Regions from separate parts of the Homo sapiens genome. Here regions 1, 3, 4 and 5 are each linked to region 2. Evidence: fine-mapped expression QTL. A gene starts in region 2. Each other region holds a variant in brackets. All regions are shown on one strand. Distances are between the middles of the regions. Region 1 overlaps DPYD (dihydropyrimidine dehydrogenase). Region 2 holds the start of DPYD (dihydropyrimidine dehydrogenase). Region 3 overlaps LOC124900404 (a long non-coding RNA gene). Region 4 overlaps DPYD (dihydropyrimidine dehydrogenase). Region 5 overlaps DPYD (dihydropyrimidine dehydrogenase).

Evidence for each region. PIP is the estimated chance that this variant, and not a neighbour inherited with it, causes the effect.
Region 1: its variant is fine-mapped to the expression of DPYD in whole blood (TOPMed, PIP above 0.99).
Region 3: its variant is fine-mapped to the expression of DPYD in whole blood (TOPMed, PIP above 0.99).
Region 4: its variant is fine-mapped to the expression of DPYD in blood mononuclear cells (TOPMed, PIP above 0.99).
Region 5: its variant is fine-mapped to the expression of DPYD in whole blood (TOPMed, PIP above 0.99).

Annotation. Positions count from the first base shown.
Region 1 is chr1:97,697,721-97,702,832 of GRCh38, forward strand. It overlaps DPYD (dihydropyrimidine dehydrogenase), which reads right to left. Exons shown (of 23, transcript NM_000110.4): 6 at 1,631-1,827. Among named protein-coding and RNA genes, the nearest start is that of DPYD-AS2, 97 kb to the right of the region's middle. The variant C/A (reference allele first, on the strand shown) is at 2,444.
Region 2 is chr1:97,917,871-97,922,982 of GRCh38, forward strand. It overlaps DPYD (dihydropyrimidine dehydrogenase), which reads right to left and starts at 3,164. Exons shown (of 23, transcript NM_000110.4): 1 at 3,014-3,164. The coding sequence starts at 3,052. RefSeq lists a silencer at 2,970-3,369.
Region 3 is chr1:98,081,903-98,087,014 of GRCh38, forward strand. All of the region lies in intron 1 of LOC124900404 (a long non-coding RNA gene), which reads left to right. Among named protein-coding and RNA genes, the nearest start is that of MIR137HG, 35 kb to the left of the region's middle. RefSeq lists an enhancer at 4,980-5,112. The variant C/A (reference allele first, on the strand shown) is at 2,502.
Region 4 is chr1:97,710,213-97,715,324 of GRCh38, forward strand. The region is part of intron 5 of DPYD (dihydropyrimidine dehydrogenase); the gene reads right to left. Among named protein-coding and RNA genes, the nearest start is that of DPYD-AS2, 84 kb to the right of the region's middle. The variant C/T (reference allele first, on the strand shown) is at 2,204.
Region 5 is chr1:97,594,558-97,599,669 of GRCh38, forward strand. DPYD (dihydropyrimidine dehydrogenase) reads right to left here. Exons shown (of 23, transcript NM_000110.4): 9 at 502-609. Among named protein-coding and RNA genes, the nearest start is that of DPYD-AS2, 200 kb to the right of the region's middle. The variant T/C (reference allele first, on the strand shown) is at 2,017.

The DNA of each region.
Region 1 (5,112 bases), 220 kb before region 2:
TTAGTACTAATTTATATGAATTACAAATGCCTATCCTGCATTTGAGTTAAAAAAGAGATAGGCTAACAACAGTAATCTACCAAAATTGGCAATACATAGTAAGTTACAAATAGGGTTGGTTCCATTTTAGGCCTTTTGTGAAAATGCAATCAAGTGGCAAACAGATTTTTCCTAGTTTACCAGGGTACACAATTAAGTTCATATTTTAAAAATTGACTCAGATATTCACTGATGTGTATAACTGAAAACAACATACAATGCTTATACATATATTGTTAATAGATTATGTTTTTTCTAATTAATAAAGCTGTGGTAAATACCATTAAAATGATATTCTAAATCTTTCCAGAGAAATAATATATAGGACATTTTACTTTCCAGAAAAATAAATTCATAAAATACATGTAATCTCTTGGAATTCATAGTAGTGGAACATCAGTACAGAAGAATAATTATTTCTTAACAATCAGGTTATTTATGTTTCATGCCCACACTAAAGGGTCTTCCTAAAATGTGATATTTTTGCTTGATGATTCAGTCAAATAAGATTATATTAATGATAGCTTATACATCAATATTTATGTTAATAAATATATCAACATATTTATATCAATGATACAAATAATTGATAATTGATAATTTTATATTATCTTGGGCTTAGCATATTGTTGTTTGAGTAATATTGAAATTTATACATTTATTAACATATATTCACTGGTGCCAAAAAACATAAGAAACTTCACAAATTTTAGTAACAAATTTGATTAAATTTATCCTCTGTGATTATTGGGTATGATTAATTTATTTGTTACACATAGGGCAGTAGCCACAACAAATTTAAATGTTAAGCATAGAAACAGATATTCCAAATGGATACATTTTGTAATCCATGATTTTTTTGATAATATACATAGAGAAAATAAAAATCAATTGAGTAATATTATTCAGTTACCATCCAAATTCTTTATTTTGTATAAAATGTTTTAAGCAATATCTATTCCCTAATTGTAATAAATTTTATTTCTTTATGATAATGAAATATGTGTCCCGTATAGAGTTCTGTTTATTTTCAATATATATTCCCATTTCCATGTATAAATTTTCATGGGAATAATATGATCATGTGATTTTAAAAATGTATATTTAAATACATTTCTAGTACATGCTGACAAAATTTTAATCAAAAGTAAGACTTAAGAAATTTTAAACTGAAAATATGTAAGACAACATATCTATGTAGACAACACAATGAATAGTCCAATATTCCATGGATCTAGGTTTTCCACATCACTAATATCCAGGATTTTCAGTTATATCTCCATTAAAAGAAATATTCACAGGGCTAAAATCATTTTTCATATGATTGGTTCTTATAATCAAAAAATAATTTGCAGAGATTTCTCTTAAATTCACAGAACTAGAGAGAAAATTTTTTAAATAAATATTGCTTCAAGCCAACTGCAAATTTTAAAGTGAATAATGTAATCAAAACTTGAACATTTGGAAAAAGAACATTTAAAATACCATCTGTGAGCCTGAAGTTCCTATATGATTATGAACCAACAATATTCATAATTGTTTTGCTCCATCATTTCTGACACTATAAACATGAAATAAATGTAGGCATTACCTTAAACCACCAACATATTCTTGTTTTTCAAATATAGTGATGTCAGAGTACCCCAATCGAGCCAAAAAGGAAGCACAACTTATACTTGCAGGCCCAGCACCAAAAAGAGCAATCTTTGCAGAATAGGCTTCAGACATTTTTTCTGGGGGAGGCAGCGAAGGATTTCTGATCTGTGGGATACTCATTGCTTTGAATACCTACGGGGAAATCAATTGTCATGGTTAAAATTTTGAAACTAGCTTACATCCTCAAACATATTTTTAATGTTTCAAACGAATTCTTGTTTTAAATAGCAATGAGCAGTACATTTTCAGTATTAATATGGTATACTTACAACTTTTATTGTGTCAAGTAGATGAGGAGTTATGGCTAACTTTCAGTCTTTCCTTTCTAGAGTCATGCCTCCTCTAGGAAACACTCATGGGGCACATTCCCTACTCCCACCTAGAGGGTACATTAAGTGCCTCTCCTCTAAGCTCCTACAGCATAATCTGTATGTCTCTAACATAACCATCTGTGGTATGTGTTATGATGTCAGTCAGTAGAATGAATGTTAGTTCCCTGAATCAGAAAACATGTCACATGTAAACACATTACCCTTGCATTATAGGAGTTAGCATTGCGATGGCACACGGTAGACATTTAATAAATAATTTCTTGAATTCTGCTTTTGATTATGACAGATTAACTTTGGGAGAATAATGATTTAAAAAAATAGTTGAAACATTCAAGAACTACTGACGCAGGCATCTTGGAAGGGCTAACATCTCAGAGGAAAGTAAGAACAAAGTTAAGTGACCAGAAGTCACTTTT[C/A]CCCTGAGGGATTTGCGACTTCTTACCAAAGGGAGGAAGGCTAAGCATCTTGAAGAGAACCACAGCTCAGAAAAGAGATGTTGGCAGTCTTTTGAAACCAGAGAGACACAGAGTTTTGGAAATGTAGGAGGCCATTAACCTAGAGCAAAATAAAGTACAGAAGAGTGAGATTAATTCTTAAAGTGCATATGACAAAAACCTAAAGATCTAAACAGAAAACCCTATGGTCCAGGAAAAACAAAAACTGGAGTGACTAAATAAGAAAGAGCCCTAGTACACACCTCAGTGTACGGCTGAAGCTTCTGGAGGGCTACACTCTACAAGTAGGGCAAATGAGGGGTAAATAGCCAACCTAGCCTTGAGTCAACTCAGCCCTGGATTTAAATGACAGTGATCAGTCCTCACTGTTATCTATGTACCAAACGATAGAATGCACTTTCTGTGAATAATAAGTCAACCACAGTTTCTACAAATTTTTTATAAAATGCCTGGGTTTTTATTTTTAAAAGTCCAAGCCTGCAAGAAAAATAAACCTAAAAAAATTGAAAGAGATACATACATAATCTCGTAAGTGTGGTTATCAAAAATAAATTTTAGAATAACTATGATTGATATGTTCAAAAATATGTAAGAAGAATGTAAACTTCATTAAAAGCTGGAATTTGTTAAAAATAAAAAATTAAATTTACTAAGTACATTTAGTAAAACATATTTAGCAAAAAAAATAACTAGCTAATGTGGAAGGAGGGAGTGGGATTTTAAAAACACATTATTAAAATGTATTAATTAAAATTATTATAAATAGGTGGTAGAGGGTAGGAAACAAAGAAACAAATGGTAAGATGGTAAATATAAATGTCAACATGAGAAATTATATTAAATGTAAATGGACTAAAATTCCAATTAAAAGACAAAAGTTATGGAAGATAAATGCCTTAAATATAAGAGCACAGATAGATAAGTGTAAAGTTAAAGACTAGAAAAAGTTATACAAAGCAAACACTAACCAAAAGAAAGCTGGTACATATATATATTATATATATATATGAAATATATATATACCAATATTAGAAATATTACACTTTAAGGCAAGATGCATTACTAAACTTAAAGAACATTTCATAGCAAGGAAATGGTCAATCTTTCAACAAGATTTTAAAATACAATTTTAAATATATAAAGCAAAATTGATAGAACTAAAAGTAAAATAAATAAATCACTATAATCTCATTATTCTACTCTCATGAAAACTTGACTACCAATAGAAGTGGCCAATGAATAAATCCATATTATAGGTAAGTTATTTATGCTATCCAATGGATTGGCTCACACAGTTGCTTGCATTTAATAGGTCAAAGCAGTAACTTTCTCTCCTGGAAACCCAGACAGAGATCAATAGATATAAATGTAAGTTTTCTTAAGAATGAGGAATAAAGGTGACAGGACTTTACATTTTCTTAACCTCATCCCACATATACCACAAACTATTGTAAATAAAGTCAAAACACATAAGGAACATCCAAACAATCTTATTTTAAAAAATTGAAGAGGGTATTATCAACAAGTATTATAGGGTCAATTTCTAAGCATGAGATGAAAGGTCCTCATAAATGGTCTCATAATATTTTGTCATTTTCATTCTAATACTTTGTCACTTTTACTGGTTTACTTATCTGTTTCCTCTCTTAGACCATAAAATATTTAAGGGAAGACAACATCTTTGAATTCACCTTTTAATATTCAGTGTTTTTATACATAAGGGGGAATATATGTTAACTAATGAGTTTAAATTGGTAATAAAATAATTTCTTATTCCCAGCTACAATTTGTATAATTTACAAATTATTAATATGTGTTCCTGCTCTTCCCTGTGCTATCCAAACAGTACAGATTTTCTTAAATATTGTTTTTGAATCAACATATACTGTTATCTTTTATTCCTTTCTAAGCAATGTGAACAAGGAACTAAATTCTGGTAGTTTTATATGATCATTAATTAAAATGTAGTTAAAATATATTTTATATTTCCCCAAAGAAAGGTTTCACATACTTTTCATAAATATATATTTTATTAGATCATTAATTAAAATATAGTTAAAATATATTTTTTATATTTCCCCAAAGAAAGATTTCACATACTTTTCATAAAGAGATACTTAAAACATATGTTTAACGTGATCAAGGATCTCTGATCAGGGAACAGAGATATAGCTAATTTTATTTAGGGATTAAATAAATGCTAATTTCTTTCATATTTAGTTGAATAATTTTAGCTTTGTGAACTAATAATTAAATATTTAACTTTCCCATGTTAAAATCTGCTAACATTTACAAATAACATTGTGTTTTAACAAATCTTAAATGAAGACATTTATGATGTATTTAAAAGTATCATTTATTGCTGACATCTTTTACAATGGAAGCAGATTTAAATGTACTAAGGCTACAGCATTCATTATAATATGAAGTTACAGTGTCATAACCAAATGGAATATAATTTGTGCTCAGCATTCACTCATAAGCAAGAAATAGGTTAGTTCTGAAACGCCTAGCATATCTGAACAAATTCTAGCTAATGGCATGCAAATAATAAAGTAGCAATTACCAAATAATACACAATATGTATGTATTTTCACCTAAAATATTTTAATATTTTTGAATAAAAATTT
Region 2 (5,112 bases):
GTACTGTTTCAAAATAATTCTCATTTCCTTTCAAGTGTGCAGATATTCACAATATACTGGCTGTAAATTCAATCTAAATGAAGAAGTGCTGTTAAGTTACTGCTGAGGCCTGGGAAAGTGACCAATGTCCAATACTAACCTTCTTTGAAACCATCCCAGGAGAGTTTGTATTAAAGTCATCGTTGACAAAATTCAGACTGTATCCAAACAGTACACTCACAAAGCAAAATAACTTCTAAAAGCATATAACTACTATTAACGGACTTTAAAATGCTAATCATTTCATTGGAAGTGATTTTCCTGAGAATAAGATATATTTTTCTGTTATCTTTATTTTTTAACATTTTTGTCCTTTTTCCCAACAAGATGCTGTCAACTTGTGACATTTGTTTATTATCCTTAGCAGATTTTCCATGTGCAATTCAGAGAGGCTAACTTGCCCAAACACACAGCTTAAAGTTAGACCTCAATCAGAGGCAGTTGGTTTCAGAAGCCAGGCTCTGAACCACATTAATATATCTGAAAAAAAACATGATTTCTCATGCAACTTCTATGATTACAACAACAACAACAACAATTCTGAGTAATGAGCTAGGTCCTATTACCAAGTAACACATCCTTTCCTTGCCTATCTCCCAGCCCAGGGATATTCCAGCTATGGAGTTTGGTGATCTGATTGTTTTCCATGTTCCTAACCGTCAAATCCTGATGTGATATTGGATTCAGACTAGAAATTATGAAGCAGGCACACAAAGCACCTTTATATATACCTCAATAACTTTTCCCCCAGAAACAAAGATATTTCTTGGCTGTTTCACTGAAACCTGAGGTTCTGTAGTTAGCTCATAGGGAAAAGTCAGTCACTATTAGAGTAGGTTGTTATCATCACCTTCTGTTCTTTTAACAATTGTCAAGTACTTTTCACATTTATCAATGTGTTCTTATCACATTCATTAACTGCTTCATACCAATATTTTTAAAATATTACTTGCTTATCCATGTATTTGAAGCTAAAACAATGATCACAATCAGATCTCTAGACAATGGTTGTAATGAATTTGTTCAAGAAAAGCATTCAAATTTGATGGAAAACTGAGCCTTTATAATTCATTCTAATTCTTCAACACAAAAATGAACTTTGGTAAATCAATAGGATCAACTGAGGCATTTATGCTTGAATGTGCTCCCCTAAGCTTAATGTATTTTTCCTCACTGCATTATATTTTAATGATTAATTTCATGCTCTTTCATGGTATTCTAGCTCATGAATCACGGGTATTACTTTGAGGGAAAAGTAAGGTGCTGTGAGTGATGAAAGATGTTACTGATTAAAGTGTTGCACATATGAACTACATAAGAGCTGAAGGTGTTTGAACACCAGCAATCTAGATTAAAAGTAATATTAGGCAAACTGGCCATATAGACTAAGGTTGAATTGAGTGGAGGGAGTGGGAAGGATGGGCTTCTTAAATGTTCTTAGTTGAAACAATATATGAAATCAAGCTTGGCATTCAATGTTTCACTGGCATCTTTCTCCTCAGTAGAATGTAAGAACTGATTTCGAAGACAACTGCAGAGAAAGAAATCAGTTAAGCAGATAACACACCATTCTGAAATTAAAGAGCCAAAAGCCACCCATCCTAAGTCAACTCCGATATCTTAAATCAATACTGCCTTAATACTGTCAGAAGCTTGTTTTTCGACTTAGTAAATAAAATTTTTTAAAAAGTTAAGTCAAAGTCACAAGGACCAAAAAGGAATAGACTACCCTAAATGAAATATAGAAAAAGACAAGTATCTATTATCCTGCACACAGATGAACAACTATTTGTTAAATATATCATATTGCTCAATATCAAAAAGTCAACTCTCCAAAACAGAAACCAAAAGTAAACTAACCAGAGATGTCCACATAATACACTTTGGCTCTTGTTACTAAAATGATTTTTCAAACCAAGTTATGGAGCCTGGAGAAAACAGGACTACTTCCTCCCAGAATATAAAGTTTCTTCAATTACGGAGGCAAAATGTGGCAAAAGCAGCTATTTTGCAAACAGGTGGTTTGCAAAACTTTTACTTAAGCCGCCAAAAGGACTGACGAAAGGAAAATTTTGTTATTTCTAAAGAAAACACACACACACATAATTTTCTACCAGAGTAGAAGACTCAAATAAAGAAAAGCCCCAAACAAAACAGAAAACTAAAAATCAGTTTGTCTTAGCTCAAAAGTGCTGACCTAGGTTTAGTATGTGTAAAATCACTGTTGATAATTAAATCCTTTTCATCGCATATATTAAGATACTAGAGAGAAAGGAAATGCCATGTCGTTTCAGGTAGGACCTTATTTACATAAAAAAAGATTTTTTTTAACAGAAACGGAGTGCAAGAGGGAATCAAAAACCGTTGAGAGGAGAGAAAAATACAGTTAGTTTTTCTGAGGGCACTGCATTTTTCATGTTCTGAATACTTCGTTCCATTCTCTCCATGTTAAATTATTTCATAAACAATACTATGACTAGAGGCGACTGCTACAGCTGACACACAGATGTTTTATTTCTATGCTTCACCTTTGCAAATAGCAGGATTCAGCTATTGGAAATGGGGGCAGTGGAGGTGTCCAGAAACGACATACAGGAGGTGAAGGGGTAGAACGTGTGGGAAATGGGCACTCCTACCCCCTAGAGTCCACCTCTCTGGAACTCCAGTGCTTCTTCAGTCACTGACATTCAGAGGAGGACAAGACAGGCTTCCTGAAATCTCTTCCGAAGTAAACAGGTCCCGACGCAAAGGGCAACCCCTCCAGTAGCGGAAAGTCCTCCCCTGAGCTCCCCGCCTGCCCACGCGGGCCTGTGGCTCCGCGCTCCTCCGCTCCCCCGCAGAGCTCCCACGGGGGAAACTTTCCCGCGTCTCTCACTCTCCGGGGTGCGGGGGCCGCGGGGGCCTCCCCGGCACCTACCCGCAGAGCACTCCCCACCACCCCGCCACCACCGACGAGCCGGCGCGAAGTCCGTACCTCGATGTCCGCCGAGTCCTTACTGAGCACAGGGGCCATGGCAGTGCCTACAGTCTCGAGTCTGCCAGTGACAAACCCTCCTTGCGTCCTCAAGCTCCAGCCAGAGAGCCAAGTGACAGCAGCCGGAGCGCGAGTCGAAAACAGGCAGACTAGGGCCGGCGGCGCGGGGGCGGAGCGGGCGCGGGGCGGCAACGCCCCCGGGGCGGGGCTGCGCTCTCGGTCCTGCGGCTCCCGCGCCAGGCACGGCAGCCGCAGCCCGGCCTTCCCAGTTCAGCCCGCTCCGCGCCCCAGCCTGCAAGCAGAAGGGAGGGAGGGAGTAGAGCACCCGCTCTGGGGACTGGCCTTTAATCTCTAAACTGCTAAAAACAGAGCTAGGCAGGCGGGGCCAGATAGGAGGGATCCCCAGGCAAAGGTAAAAGCAGTCCGCGCTCCAAGCAACAACTTGCACTTTTTCTTTTCTTCCACAGAAACCCCGCGAGATGTAGATACATTGTTTGAGGGGCAACTGCATTTTCAGGAACTCCTCAAGGATGAAATAGTAGATGTTCCTCCATCCATCCACCAAGTAGGTGGGCGGGGTTTGAGCTGCAGTGGAGGATACCAAAGCACCGGTCTTCTGAGAGTTCACAGCCCCAGCGGGGAGGGGAGGGAGGCGAGCAAAAACATCCACAGCCCGCAGCAGCATACAGGAAGTGCTGCAGGTGGTACATAATCAAGGTTGTCTTTTTGCAGGAAAGTCTCATTTTAATGGTTATTTTTTTAAATATTTTTTATTCTAAAACGTGAAACTCTTTTGAAAAGTTGCTCTTCGTTTTTGCTCTAGAGCTTGCTGAGGAGAAGGGAGAGATTTCCTGTAGAGTTGGTCCCAATCCAGAAAACATTCACCTCGTTTTTTGAGGATATGTGTACTCCAGACCTCTCTCCTTTTCTCCCCGCCCCCCCCCCACCCCTGTTAGATGCATCCCACCTCTCTTCTACCATAACACTTTCTACTTCCGTTAGGACATTTGCGGCACTCCTTCATGCACTTGGCTAGGTAGTGACACCTTGGAGTCAAGTATTTCTCCCTTATTATTTTTTCATTAGTCCATTCATCGTTTTATTCAACGAATATGTTTATTGAGCATTTTCAATATGCCAGACACAGACACTGTGCTAGGTTCTCCGGATATAGTCTTCAAGAATACACATCACTGTCATGGAGATTATACTCAAAATAAGCAAGTAAGAAAATGTGATGCCTGCTTGTAAGATAAAAGAAAAATAGGACAGAATAACTAGGGTATGGGTACCTTGCGTGGTTGAGAAGGCTTCTCTGAACAAACCATCAGATTACCTTCCAGAACCTGGAAATTACTAAAAGACAGATACATTTTTCTTGAATCAAATATTAACAGACACTAGAAAGTTAAATGGAAACCTTAGAATCATCTTTGACTCCTTTATCCTTATTGCCTCATTTAATCTATGCCCAAACTCTCAGAAGTCAACCTCCTAAATAGATTTTGAATCATTCATTTCTCCATTTTGCTGCATCCACCATGGTCCAAGCTACTGGTATTCTAGCTTCTATTCTTACCTCATATCCATACCAGATTGAGCTTTAGAAAGTATTAACTGGCTCATGCCATACAACGATACATCCACACACCCAGGTACCCATGGTATAAATCCTTCAATGGTCCATTGCAGTCAGAATATAATACAAACTCCCTAGTAACCGCTGAATAACCTGCTCTACTCCGCTTCTCCGCCACTCTTGCCCTGACTCATTATGTTCCAACCACAAGGTAATCTTCTCATCCTCCATCCACTTCTCTACCTTTGCACATTGCCCTCCACTTGGAGCTCTTCTTCCCCTTCTACTCATCATTTAGGTCTCACTGAAGCCTTTATGATCTAACCCCATCACCAACAAAATTACACCCACTCTGTCTTTTTCATTATATTTCGTCTTCATAGACTTTTCAAATGTTGTTTAAATATTTATTTGAATGTGATTCATTTAATATATGTCTTCTATTTAGAGAGGAAGCTCCAGGAAGAGGGGGCCCATGTGTACTTTTATTGTTTACTGGATACTCAGTTCCTAGCTCAGG
Region 3 (5,112 bases), 160 kb after region 2:
TGATGTGTTTTGCCTTGTGGACTTCTTTAAAAAATGTAATGCAACTTCTTAGTCTTTTTCCCTCATAGTTTCTGGATTTTTGAGTTACAAATAGAATCTGCTCTTCCAAGGCTATGAAGAAATGTGTCTATTTTTTTTCTAGTACTTTTATGGTTTCCCTTTTACATTTATGTCTTTGGTCCACTTAGTGTTTACTGATAAGGATCAGAATTTGTCTTTTGATGCTTATCCATTTGTTATAGCACCATTACTAAAAACTTTGTCCTTGACTCACTGATTTGAGATACTACCTTATCATATAATAAATTGACGTTTCTACTTGAATCTATTTTTTATTTGGTTTCATTCACATGTCTGCTTATTCCAGTGCCAATAATTTACTGTTTTAGTTGTTAGAGCTAGGCTGTCTAATACATAGGTTATTGAGCACTTGAAATGTGACTGGTATGAGATGAGATGTGCTGTAATTGTAAACTATACACTGGATTTTAAAGATGTAGTTTAAATAAAGAATTTTAAATATATTAATAATAACTTATTTTGATTACATGTTGAAATAACGTTTTGATATATTGGCTTAAATAAAATATATTTTAAATTAATTCTACCTTTTAAAAAATTTTTATATTGTAGCTACTAAATGTTTTAAAATTATATAGGTGGCTTTCGTTAATATTTTTATTAGATAGCACTGCTTTTGAGTATGATTAATACCTAGTAGAATTATTCCTACATCAGTGTTCTTTAAAAAAAAAAAAGTTTTCCTGGTAATTTACTCTTTTTTATTTTTTCCGTATACACTTAGAATTAGCTTGTATATTTCTACAACAAATCTATTGATATTTTTATTGGAATTGTGTATAATGTGTAAATTAACTTATAGTTTATATTTTCATTATGTTGCACCTTCCTATCCAACAACATGATATGTCTTTCTATTTCTTCAGTCACGCTTAGGTGTATTTTAGGAGTATTTTCAGGTTTTGCTTATATAGGTTTGGCACATTTTTCAAAGTTTATTTCATAATATTTTATCTTTCTGTGGCTATTGTAAATGTATATTATTTTCCATTTATCTTCTCACTTGCTGTATCTACGTATGATTGATACTAATTTTTATGAATTAATTATTTTCCTTGCTATCTTAATTCATTCTCAATTATCTTGCTTTTGTAGTGTTTTTCTCCATTTTATTCTTTTGTGTTTTCCAATAACAAAATTTTCTGCAAATAGGAAGAGTTTTCCCACCCCCTTTAAGTGTTATATCTCTAATTATTTTCTCTTGTCAGTACAAAATGAAATAGCAGTGGTGAGTGTGACTATCCTTTTCTTGTTTAAACTTCAGCAAGAATGTCTCCATTAGGTTGAATGCCAGTTTGTGGGCTGATATTTCTCTCGTCTCTCTGACACATACACACAACGCACACACGCGCGCGCGTGCACACACACACATACACACATGCACTGTTAAGAAAGTATTCATATATACTTATTTTGATGAATGTTTAAAAAAATCTAGAATGGATGTTTAATGTTGTCATGTCTTTTCTGATCCAAGGAATGACTATATAATTTTTTTCTGTCAATTAGGTGAATTAGATTAATAGATTTGATGGTTTTACTTGTGATGTACTATAATTTTAAAGTAGTTCTTTTTTTAGTTTTAATTTTTTTACAGCAGCATCAATTTATACTTTGATTTGCAAATGTAAATTAAGATACAGTAAAGAGTAAAATACAAAGAAATGAATGCATGCTGTGCATAGATTATTGATGAGTATTCGCAAGCCATTCTCAATCCCAAGCTCCCTTGCTGCTTCTACACTGAGTTTGGAGGTAATTGCTCACCACACACCCTCATTTTTAGTTACGAGAGGCCAAGTGACTCAATTATGGCCCATATGACAAACAGCAGACTTCCAGGGAAACTTAGAAGAATATTTGCTTTCCTAACAAGAAGAGGAATACCTGGCATAGATTTCCTTCCTCTTCCGTCTTCCCCCTTCTTCCTATTAAATGCCAACAGTGACTGGCATTCAACTCCCATCTTGGCATTCCTGAAGATGTTCAGCTACTACACCTCTTTTCTTCTTGTTATGTTAAACCATTTCTTGATTTTGCTTTTTAACATCTCACTTAGGATATTTGCACTGATATTCACAAGTGAGATTTTTCTGTAGATGCTTTTGAATTTTTTTCATGTTTTAGTATGAATGCTTTCATTGCTTTTTAATTTTTTTAAAAAATTTATTGTCCTTACTGTTTTCTGGAATAGTTAAAATTGCATTGGAATAAGCTATTATTTGACAGTCGTTTCCATCCTACTAAGATTGAGAAGGAACTTCCCTTACATAAAGGTTTTTAAAGGCTCCAATTCTTTTCTGGATCTCACCCTCTCTTAATGTCTCATAGACTTTGAGCCATGGTTATACATACTGTCTCCTCATGATTTTCAGTGTTTCTCTTTATGCTGGCCCTTTCCTTCAGAATGTAAACATATG[C/A]CTACTTATCAAATTTAAAACTAAACAAAACTCCTACCAAACTCATTGACCCAAGGAAAACAAACCATCGTAAAGTGCAGCACTTCCTCTGATTATTTCAAAATCTTTCTTTTCTTCCCTGATCAGACTTTTGGGAGAGTTTTCAACACTGACTGTCCATTTTCTCCCTTCATTATCACTCTTCAGCACACTCTACTCTGCCTTCCCCCTTAGGTTACTAATAACTGATGGGTCTGCGAATCTAATAAGCCCCTTCCTGCAACATTCACTACCTTTCCTCCTTTCCTTTGGCATCTGTGGCCACTCCTGATTGTTGTCCCACCACTCTGATATCCATTCACTCAGAGCCAACTTGTTTTTAAGAAACTTCAAACTTAAAATATCTGAAAGTGAGTTAATTACGTTTCTCCACCCGACAACACAGAAAATACTGTTTTGCTGGCAATATTCTTTGCTTCAGTAAATCATGCTTCCATTCACCAACTTTTCCAAACCAGTAATATGGGAGTCATCCCTAGTATCACTCTGTTCCTTATATTCGCTGTCACCAAGGACTGTTGACTCTAAATCTGAACTCCTTCCCAATCCATCTAATTTTCTTTAATCCAAACCATCCATTCCCTATCTCTTTCATTATTACTGCAAGTCTCTCACATGTCCTCTCCAACTCTAATTTTGCTTCCCCTTCATCTGTTCCTTGCATTGCTGCTGGAGTGATCTTTCAAAAACACAAACTTGCAAATGACTCCCTGCATAAAAGTACTCAGTGATTTTCCATTTCCTTCAGAATAAAGTCCAGACTCCTTAGCTGCATTATAAGGGCCTGTGTGGTCTGGCCTCACTCATATCTAACAGTTCTCCTTACAAATTACCCCCCTTAGAAATGAAACTATTTCCACATTTCAAAAGTGGTGAGGTATCTCTCTCACTTAACCACCATATGCTGCTTATGCTGGCCTACCTTTTGGAAATCGTCCCTTTCCCTCTCCATTTTACCTGATAAATTTTTGATGATGTTTCAATTTAAAGCGTAGCGGATCATCTTTGACAACTAAGCTAACTTCTCTTGTTATGGGTTTCTTTAGAGTCTAGTATTTCCTTGTCTTAAGACTGATCACACTTAATTGTGGTTATATAGTGTCTGTCTTTTTTGTTGGAATGAAGACTGTGAGGAGTTGAGAACTATCAGTTCCCTGAGCCTAACATTTAGATACTGAATAACAGCTGATTACATGAATGAATGAAGAATATTTGTTAGAAGACAGAATTTTTTTAGAATTTTAAATTGCAGAGATCAAGTGAGAAGGTTCCAGTTGTATTAGATCTGAGAAATGTGATTAAAGCAGTGTTTTTGCAAGATTAATTTGACATTTTTCTGTTGAAACAGATTAGGGACAGATTAGATGGAGGTTTGTAGTGATGAGAACATAGACAAGTGGCTTCATATTAGAGTCACCTGGTGATATTAAAAAAAATACCTGTTTCCCAAGCTGCCCCAGACTGATTAAATTCACTGATTGCAAGAAAACCTAGGATTTGTACTTTTTTAAGTCAAACGCTCACACCCATCCAGGATTTTCTGAAGTTAAAATGGTAACAGTATAATTGGTATGGGCAAAATATATTTTTCCTAAGAATGATAGAATGTGAATGTGGGCTTTTCAAGTCTAGTGGACCAGAGAGCCCCATTGCAGTGTTAAAGAAATGGCGAAGTAGAAGAGGGGAGTTGTTTTAAAGAAAGAGAGAGTGACCAGGCCAAAAGTGGCTCAGTACTTTGGGAGGCTGGGGGGACAGATCACCTGAGCCCAGGAGTTTGAGACCAGCCTGGGCAACATGGCAAAACCCTGTCTCTACCAAAAATTCAAAAAATTAGCCAGGCATGGTGGCATGCATCTGTGGTCACAGCTACTCAGGAGTTTGAGGCGTGAGAATCTCTTGAGCCCAGGAGGTGGAGGTTGCAGTGAGTCAGGATCATGCACTCCAGACTGGGTGACAGAGGGAAACCCCATCTCACTATCTCCAAAAAAAAAAAAAAAAAAAAAAAGGAGGAGTAAGTTTTAGGCATGTGGGACACATATGTGTATATATACACATATATACACATACAATATATACACATATATGTGTGTATATATACACATACAATATATACACATATATGTGTGTATATATACACACATTTACACATACAATATATACACATATATACATATATAATATATAATATTATGTGTATATATAATATTATGTAAACATATATCACATATTAAATATGTATATAGGTATATATGTATATATATGTTTAAATACCTGACCATCTTCTACTAAGTTATGATTCAAATGTTCCGTTATCTAGGAGGCTTCCTCTCCTCTGCAGGGCCCATTGTCCTAGCTACACCTCAATAACTGCTTTCTTTTCTTTTTTTTTTTTGTCTTTTCCTCAACTCAATTCTAAGCTCTCTAAGGACAAGTATGTTGCCTTACTCATACTTGTGAACTCAGTGCTCAGGACACTGGCATGCATAGAATAAACACCCTCTGAATGTTTGCAGAATGAGTCAGTGATTAGATATGAGACTGGATGAATTCTCCTGAAGAGTAAATGCTAAGG
Region 4 (5,112 bases), 210 kb before region 2:
GTTACCTTTTGAATGCCTGAATGAAGAAATTGCTATTTGTGCATCCAAAAGTAAGTTTCCTGAAATTACATACCTTCTAGGAGATGCTTCTATGTAATTTTCTTTGTTGTTTGTTTCCTTTTGTAAGACAAGTCAAAGGAAATACTGAGTACATACTAATCACTGCATTCATTCTTTGAAAAGAAATATACTTGGGCTTCTTGACAAATAGTTTTCTTCATAACAATTAGACCAGGAACACCAAAAGTGAGTACTGTGTTTCAAATGTATTAAAAATGATAAAAACTTCATGTAATGTCAAATTTTTATTTATCAAAATTATTACTGTATTAGTAATTCTCAAAGATTTTTTTCCATAATTTTCATATTATTAAAATAGACATTGAGAGAAACAACTGGCAGGTTAAAAATACTGTGTTAGCTGAAATCAGAATATTCTTTCATTCAATTTCCTTTTCAATTTGGTAGGTATTGTTTAGGTACCTCCTATGTCCTAGACACCAGTATGAAAAAAAACATAGACTCTCCAGTAACTAGCTCCCTGGATAATAGAGCACTCACATGTCCTAAATATTTTTAATAAACTATATTACTATGTAGCCTGTCTGGAACAGGGTTAATTTTCACAAACGTTGCTCTCAGAGTATTTGAGAAGGTAAACCCACCTGAAAGAGAAATTGACACCTAAGCCAAACCTTAAAAACAACAATAAAAAAAACATATATATATTAGACAGTACTTCACCTTTTTAAATACCAACACTGAAAATTAAAAGAGTAATGATTACTTCAGCAATTTATTGTGAAGATTAGAGTCAATGGTGATAACTTCTTGTGATGAATGCCTTTTCCTTACAAGGCACTCTCTGGGGAACTTAATATTTATATCTCCAATCCTAAAAATCTTCGACTTTAGGTATGATTGTTCATTTTCTATACAAAGGAACTGACTCATAAGATTATAGTCTGTGTTATTATGACTAAACAAAGGTTATATTGGATATTTGATAAACCAATTGAATAGAGTGGTTAAAACTGACCAAATATAGATGAAAACGTTAAGTGTTTATAGTTTAGTTATAAGAAACTTATCCAAAATCATATGCTCAGGACACTTACATTAGCCCACAGATAGGCAAAATAATCTACCACAAAGCCTGTTATAAGATAAAGTACTGAATATTTCATGTAATTTATCGCATACAGTACTGAAAGTTAAAAATAAAGTAGGTGAATGAGTATTTGAAGTAAGTTTTCTACTAAATGTGCATCACTTTTACACCATTTTAAAGTCAAAAAATCCTAAGTTGAATCATTGTAAGTCAGGGACTATAAGTCACTGTTTTTTAGTACATGGTCAGTTTTGATAAATGTTCTGCAAGTGCATGAAAATGATGCATTCGTTCTATGTTAGGCTCAGAAAAGTATAGATTTCTTAAATCAATCCAATAAACTTTATACAAATAAACCTTACAAATTTTGAGTAAATTTATGTTGTCATGTGTATAAATGTTTATGAATATTACATCTTTTAAGAGTTTTTTATTATTATTTTTATCTTCCAAAACACGTCCTTGTCAATATTATAAAACTTTTTTTTACATCTTTATTTTTAAAACTCAAAATAAGTTATAATTACTCTGGGATCAATATTTAATTATATTCACAACCATATTTTTACACATTGTTTCTTTTATCTTTCTTTCCACATTTGTTTCCTTCCTTCTAAAGAATAACTCTTAGTAGATGCAGATGAGAAATCTAAGGTCAGAGTAATTGTCATTTGGTTTTCCAGTAATTTGTTTTCCCTTTATCTTGAAGTTCTGATTCTCATTATCCTTAGTATTGCACAATATTACCACAACCCTGTGTCTAGGTGAAGACCTTTCATCTTTCCTTTCTTCTGGAAAATTTTCCACCATAACTGCTTTAAGGCTCCTCCTGTGCCAATCTCTGTCTCTCTACTTTAGGAGCTCCCCTTACATGTGTATTGGAGTCTTAGAAGCTTCTGAACTTCTCTATTAAACTTTTCATTTATTCGTATCTCTTTATTGTGCTCTGGTTGAATACTCAGATCATATTTTTACTTTTTATTTCTTTAGTTCTGCAATTTATGCCTCTATCCAGCCCAAAACTGACCTTTTCTATTGAGATTGTCATTATAGTGTAAATTTACAGTCAACTATTTTTTATATTAAACTCAC[C/T]GTTGATTTTTTTATTTTATCTCCTTTTAGGATATTATTTTATACATATTAATTTTAAAGGCCTGATTATAATATTATTTGTGTTTCATTAGGATAAAGTCAGGTACCATCAGGTAAGTCTTTAAATTATCACTAATAGATTATCTTTCCTAACATAGTTTCTACCTTTTTGTTTCTCATTTACGTTGAGTGAATTTTATTCTCTTTCGGGGCACTCCCCCTATGGCTTTGTATCAGGTGTGTGTGGCCTTCAATCAACAATACTCCTATCCCTCTCTCCCACTGCAGAACCAAGTTTCTTAAAGTCCAGGGCTCCAGTCCAAGGTGATTAGAGGCATCACAGAACCAAATCACTGTACCATAGACACATGCCCACAATACCTGCTGTACAGCTTTCTCTACTTTTTTCTGCAGCTTTCTATAAGCCTCAGCTCTGTACAGCAGTTGCACCTATTTTTTATTAAACTTTCTATGAGGTGGAGCTGAGTCCAGTCCTCTACCATGCAAGATGTTTTTGGCACTTAAGTTTATCTTAGACCACTCCCCAGCAGAAGTTAGCAGAGAATAACCTAGTCCCCATGTTTTTATACCATTTCTGGCCCAAAAGGTATTTATATTTCTTTTTCAGTTCACCTCTTAATTTTTTTTCTACTTTCATTAAATTTTACTTATCATCATTATTTGAAGATAAATGGGTGGCTTAAATGTTAACTTACAGCATCATGCCTTTTACAAGTGATTCATGTTGATACAATAATATTGCTTTATACTACCCTATATTATGAGTCATCAAATATTTTTATGAAAGTATATACATTTTTAAGTTGTTGAAGCTTAAACCAACGAATCCTTTAAAACTGTAAATTGGCAACGAAATAGTATAAATTTACATTTATTTTTAAAAACTAATGTAGAAAAAAGTAACCGCAAATAATTTTAACCATGCGATTTCGTTAAATTTCAAAGTTATTGCCCCCAAATCACGGTAGCTTATTTTTAAGTCCTAGATATTAAGATACAGTTTTAAAACAAACTAAAATATTGTAATAAAAATCATCTAGCAATTCATCTGGCCCCACAGTTCTATTATAAATCATTGTGCCAGTAAGGAATATTTTAATAGATTTCTAAAGATTTTTGGAGAAGAATGTCAGATATTTAGTGAATTCTATCAAGACATTATTCTTTTCTATTAATCACTGCATTAAGAGTAAAAGGAGAGACACAAATCAAATCTTCAAAGATGTTACTTGTATTTGCATTCCAGACAGACACATTTTACCAGGGTAAAAAATATTTATCTTATTAGTGCTTAATGCATATTTTTCATCTATATCTTACTTCTCTCAGAAATAATTCACCTTTGTGTTTGAGGGTTGGGTATTGGTTAAAGACATTCACAAATAATTGAATAGTACTATTTTAAATAGAAGTAGTATAGAGAAATCCCATTTAAAGTGATAAAACTTTGGGATAATAGGGCAAGTGTGATATATCATTAATCTAACAAATATAGTTTAATCTATATCCTATTTATAAATGACCTGCAAAAAGTTATTAGCTATATATATTAGTAATTTTTCATTATCATGATAATTTATCTTAGTTATAGATTACAAAATGAACTGATAGATTTTATTGATCAGTTTGTCAAACTGTATCATAAATGTGCTAGGTTTATTCCTAAATTTATTTGTATACCAGCTTTCACAAAATCATACTTAGGCATTCCAAAATAAAATAAAACTGCAGATAAACACTTAACGCTTCAAGGCTCCTCGTCACATAGACCCCCCCTTTTTATTTATTTATTTTTTGAGATGGAGTCTCGCTCTGTCGCCAGGCTGGTGTGTAGTGGCGCAATCTCGGCTCATTGCAACCTCTGCCTCCAGGTTCAAGTGATTCTCCTGCCTCAGCCTCTTGAGTAGCTGGGACTAAAGGTGCACACCACCACAGCTGGCTAATTTTTTTTATTTTTAGTAGAGATGGGGTTTTACCATGTTGGCCAAGATGGTCTTGATTTGACCTTGTGATCCGCCTGCCTCGGCCTCCCAAAATGCTAGGATTAAAGGCATGACCCACCACGCCTGGCCCATATAGACCCCTTCTAAGGCCTTGTATTTAAATTTTTCAGTAGTGCTGTAATGTAATTTCTAAAGAAGGAACCCAACATTTTGTTATCTGAAGCCCCATAAAACTTAAGATTCATTCCTGGCTACAGAAGTTAAAAAAGAAAAGACAAAAAAAAAAAAAAAAAAACAACTAAGCCGTATGTGTTGGTCTTACCCAACCTATTTCAATGTAGTAGCTTCATATCTAACAGAAAAACAAGGACTTGTGAGGTATGGTGACCAAGTATATTTGGCTAGCCTAGAAGATGCAACAGATACTGCTGTGGCCTTACAGCCAGAAAACCAGGGTTTACATTGAGCGCCTCTGTCTTTGACTAGTAACATTACCTGGGGCAAGTAAGAGTTTGTGAAATAATGAAAATTAAACCACTAGCTTTGTATTCCAGATTTGCCTCTCACTACATGTGAGGTTGTGGAAGTTAATTAATTTCCTGGAGTTTCCTGTTACTCATATGTAAAATGGAAATAATAACATTATTTGGAGAGTTATTCTGAGGATTAATCAAGCTCTAAATAAAGTACTCAACATTGTGCAGGACACTGGGAGTTTATTTAACATTAGCTGTGATTTTGTAATCACTTTGATTCTTAGTTTCCTTATGTCCAAAATGGGAAAAAAATTACCTGGTTTGCATGCCCTCAAGCGTTGTTTATCAGCATTTTTGAGTGAGATATTACAAAAATGCACTGAAGCACTATGCAAAGTACAATATAACTGCATTTTCTCCTTGCCTGATACTTTTCTTTGCACTAAGGTCTAATCACCTCCAAAACCAT
Region 5 (5,112 bases), 320 kb before region 2:
ACAATGACTCTGGTCAGGCCAAACCAAGGTACAACCTTCATTCAGGTGGTTCTTCTTGGGGTGTATAAAGTGATAGGGTGTCTATCAAAGTATTTTATTTTAACATCATAAAATTACTGTTTAAGAGAAGACAGTCAATCTTTCTGCCTGTGTAGATACAAATCATATAAGATATGTGACGATTCATGCCATTTCTTTGAAAAACATCTTCCAATGTTTGTTAAGGACTTGCTTACCTTGAAGCAATTTTTCATGATGTAGTTTAGACATATATATTACAGTGAAAATTCCTTACGATGATACTTTATTGGAAGAATGAACAAACAGATGATTCTGGCAAACTGTTATACCCGGCCTTTTTTTTTTTAATTTTACATTTGGGTCTTAGGCAAGGTTGGGTGTGAGAGCTGAACAATGTGCTGCTGAGCTTGATTTTGATATTAATTTATCATAAATAAAATAGCATACTCACTATTAAGCATAAAAGACAATATGTTATACCTGCTTTACTGCCTTTGGCTACAAGTGGCAAAAAGTCTTTGGATGTATAAAACCCCTGGTCCTGCGTCAGGCCTTGGAAGATGGCATCTTTATTGGGTTCTGGCAAACCTAAGTAATCAAATTTATAAAATATCATTAGCAGGAGGAGGGGCTTTTCCTATTAGATATTAAAACAAAAAAGAAAACTTTAATCTTTGAAATAATGTCATTCTTAGAGGAAAACATCTGTAAGCAAATCAATATAAAATGTACATAATACAGTCTAACGGATCTCAGAGTATATTATGTATATCTTTAATATATAACCAAGTACACATCGTAAATCACACATTAATGTATACCTATAAATATATGGAAACATATGTATATACACACATAAACATATATAACATTACAGGGAAAATCAGGTTATATTCTTGCCTCATATCATAAATAAGTCAGTTTCAGCTACATTAAAGTACTAAATATAAAAAAAGTTAAAAATGGGTACATATTTATCTAATTCCTGAATAAGTAAAATCATTTCTTTTTTAATGAAAGAAAAAAATTAAAGGAAAAAACAATGTATTTTGCCACAATAATTCAACCACTGCTAAATTTAAAAAATATAAATGAATTAAAACGAAAATTATTAACCAAGAAGATGTTTTAATAATTAAATGTCTTTACTGTATAAATTCTCCAAATCAGTAAGGAACATATTAGCTTTTCAATGGAAACATAAAGAATAATAAAAATTGGGAGAAGAAAAAATATAAATCACCTATAAGCACTAAAAATATTAACTCCATTAAGTCATTAAACTGCAAATTAAAAGAATAAAATTGTAACTTCTCTATAAAAAGAAAAATATTTAAGAAAATTAAACTATACACCAAGGGTAGACATGGAACTTGTCATACTCTTTCAGTGGAAATATACATTGGTGTTCAATATCTAGAAAATAGTCTTAAATCTATCTTAAGAAAATACTGACACATGCAAATAAAGGTTTAATGCACAAAAATGATTAATACAGAAAGAGGAAAATAAGATGAGAGAGTACCAGAATGTCAGGTAAATGAAGAAATTAGTTTTACCGTATAAAAGAAAAAGACAACAGAACGAATATTTGAGAAATATGGTATAAGATTGTAATCAAAATACAGTCTTAAATGAACCTGCAGGATTCAAAACTCTGTATAGTATAATTCAAATTTTGTAAAAAAATGTATTAATATAAACCATGTAATCTAAACAGAGATCATTTAGAGTGGTGGTATTAAGGATATTCCAATTTTTATTATTTCCTTATTTTCCAAATTTTCTACATTGTACATATATCAACTATAAATTAGTAAATTCTTACCAAAACTTTGAAAGGAAAATAAATGGCAGACTAAATTTTTTCCAAAGTGTAAATGAAGAAAATCTTATAGCAGTCACCCCATCCAAGGCAAGTAGAGAAATAATTCATCTCAATTCCATAAATGCAGGGGAAAACATGTAGTTTTATTTTATTACTAAGACTCATTC[T/C]ACCAATGGGTCATTCTAGAGAGGCAGGAGTTTATTTTACAATGAAATGAAGGGCAATGGACATTTGCTGGTAGATACAGAGTAATAAGCATAGCCGAAGGATGACTTTTGTCATATGAGATAAGGTGGGTGCCATATCTGATCTGAAAGCTGAAGGTTTCTGTGGGTTGCCTGTAATCAGCAATAAACCACCATTGTCTCTTCAGATTAAACCAAACATTTTTCTTCCCCATCCAGCATCCCCTGAATCTCCTTTTCCATAGCATTTGCTCATAAATGATTTTAAAAGAACTTTTGCTTTCAAAATGATTTCCATTATGTAGTAGCATAGTTAGGGGAGCCACCTCACCTGCCTTTGCCTCAGCTTCTCTGTAAAGGAAATGGGGATAAGACTGTTTCCCCCTTTTATGACATAAAAAGGTATATTAGTAACAGAAACAATTATATAAATGGGTGGCCGTTTATGTGATTCTTTTAGAAAACCTGGGTTGGAGGGATGGGGTTGGTAAAAATAGCTGAATATGTTCTTGAAGGCTCTCTAATGACAAAATGATTTCTTCTGAAACCTGTTAAAAGAAGACTGAAGTTAGGTCTACATTTGACTATTCAAACCAACATATACATATGCTACATATAATTAGCTTTTCTTTCCAGTTTATTTAGCCACACCCCAGGTCACACATAGGGCCTCAAGGTCCACGGAGCCCTCCTCCTCTACCTGGGTGACAGGTCATCCCTTCTGGCCAGGGACAGTGCATCTGAAGGTCTCCATGTGGATACTTTGATAGTCTATGCTAATCATAGTGCTGTGGGATGATCAGAAGCAGGGATTTTGTCACTAGACAGACTTTGGTATGAGTCCTTCCTCTCTCATTTACCAGTTCTGTGGTATTGTATAAGTTCCTGTGAATCCTGTGAAGGTTAGGGTTAGATGTCAATTTGGCTAGGCTATAACACCCGTTAGTCAATCAAACACTAAGGTAGGTATTGCTGGGAAAGCCTTTTGTTGATGTGATTAATATCTACAACCACTTGACTTTAAGGAGATTGCCTCAATAATGTGGGTGGGCCCTATCCAATCAATTAATCAAAAGGCCTTAAGAACAAAATTGTGGTTTCCCTGAGGAAGGAGAAATTCTGTCTTAAGTCTGCACAATCAGCTCCTACTTGGGAGTTCCAGTCTCCTGTCCTGCGCTAAGGAGTTGGACTTACCAGCTCCCACAATTAAATAGCCCAATTCCCTAAAATAAGTCATCTCTATCTACCCATCTGTCCATCCTACTAATTATGTTTTTCTGGAGAACCCTGAAATTGATTTTCCACTACTTCATTTCTAAAAACAGAGATAAAAATTCTACTTCTCTCATGGATGTGAGATTTTTTAAAAATGTTAAAAAAATTACAAAATTATGAAAATATTAAAAATATATCCATATGGATAAACCATATATATAATTGAGAGCTGGCACATCGTGAATACTCATTAAACATTAGCTATTAATATTAAGATAGGTTTATTCTATAATTTATCAATTATTTCATACTTCATATTGCATGGCAAGGAAAGAATAAAAGCTTAAATAAAAATAAAGTATTAAACCTTAGCATATGTAAATCAAGTTCCACAAAGAAAGAAAAATGAGGCAACCTTAAGTGAAATATGAAAGAAAATGAAACTTGCAAATAGTCATCTATCAAAGGAAGACTTCTCTGAGAGTAGGTGGCATATTAATAAATAAGGTATGTGTCTATACTAGGATGATTTCAAAATGACACTGAAATGACTTTTTAATTCACCTTTCAGTGTGAAAAAGAGAGTTTATGAATAAAGATGAATTGACAAAGATTTGACAAACAAAACAGTTCAGCGTAGTAGATATGTATAGTCTTTGTCTTTCAAGGAGGCCGGATAGTTTGTTTCTTTAGAATAGTTATTGAAGTTTTTGGTGTTTTAGCATGCATTTATACAAAGGAACACCTCCTTAAGAATTATTTTTAAATGGTGATTTTCACGTTCTCTGAAAAAGAAGGGAGGGAGGGAGGGAAGGAGGGAGGGAGGGAGGAACGAAGGAAGGAAGGAAGGATCCTGCTTATGTTACAGAAAATTTAAATTAACTTTTATTGACTACAGACACTACTCTAAATGCCTGGCCCCCAGGTGATTATTATATAACTCATTTTAATTCTCAAAATAATTGTATGAGGCAACTGATGTTATTATCCACATTTTAAATATGAGGAAATTGAGGCATATAGGGATTAAGTAACTCGCTGAAGGATCACAGAACATGTAAGAAGCAGCGCCAATTTCTAACGTGGACACTGGTTGTAGAGTCTATGTTATGAGTTCAAAATGGCTGCCTTTTTCATGTTTAAGGTTATAACTAGGCCAGGTTATAATGTGAAGCTACATAACCAGTCCTATCTAAAGTAATCATTCAACATGTATGTATTAAGTTTCTCTACAAGGCTGCAGATATGCGTACCTCACAGGATGTGTCTGCAGCCAGGTTCCAATCTAGTGACAGAGAAAGGACTGGCTGCTTCTCTTGTCAGCATTTTTGTTTTGTGATTATTTTCTCCAGTACAATCCCTTTCTGAAATGTTTTCCTTCTTAAGTGAATTCCTCTTGGGTATATCCTGGTTATTTTTCACTATTTGATATTCTTTGAAATGTGTATCCTTGCATTGTTGCCAAAGCACCTCCCTCTGGAACAACTACAGAATAAATAACAGCAGTATATATAGTAAATTCTTTCCTTGTGCTCACATAAAGTTTTGCACAACTTCAGTTAACATGAACAAGATATTAGATGTTCTGTTACATATTAAAATCTAGGAAGTAATAAGAGAAAAAAAAAAGCTTTTAAGGCTTTGCTTTCATAGCTATGGTAGGGCATGTTTAAGAATTACTCAGATTCTATAATGTTTGCTTGTGTTACTTCACCAAGCCACTTGTTTAGTGTTAACTGAATGATGCAAGCATTTGTGTGATGCTTCCTGTCCTTGAAAGGATTCATCTGAATGACAGCTAAGCCATCATGAGAAAGACAGTCATCTTTGGAGATAGACTCACAAATCCCAGGTGTGAAGAAG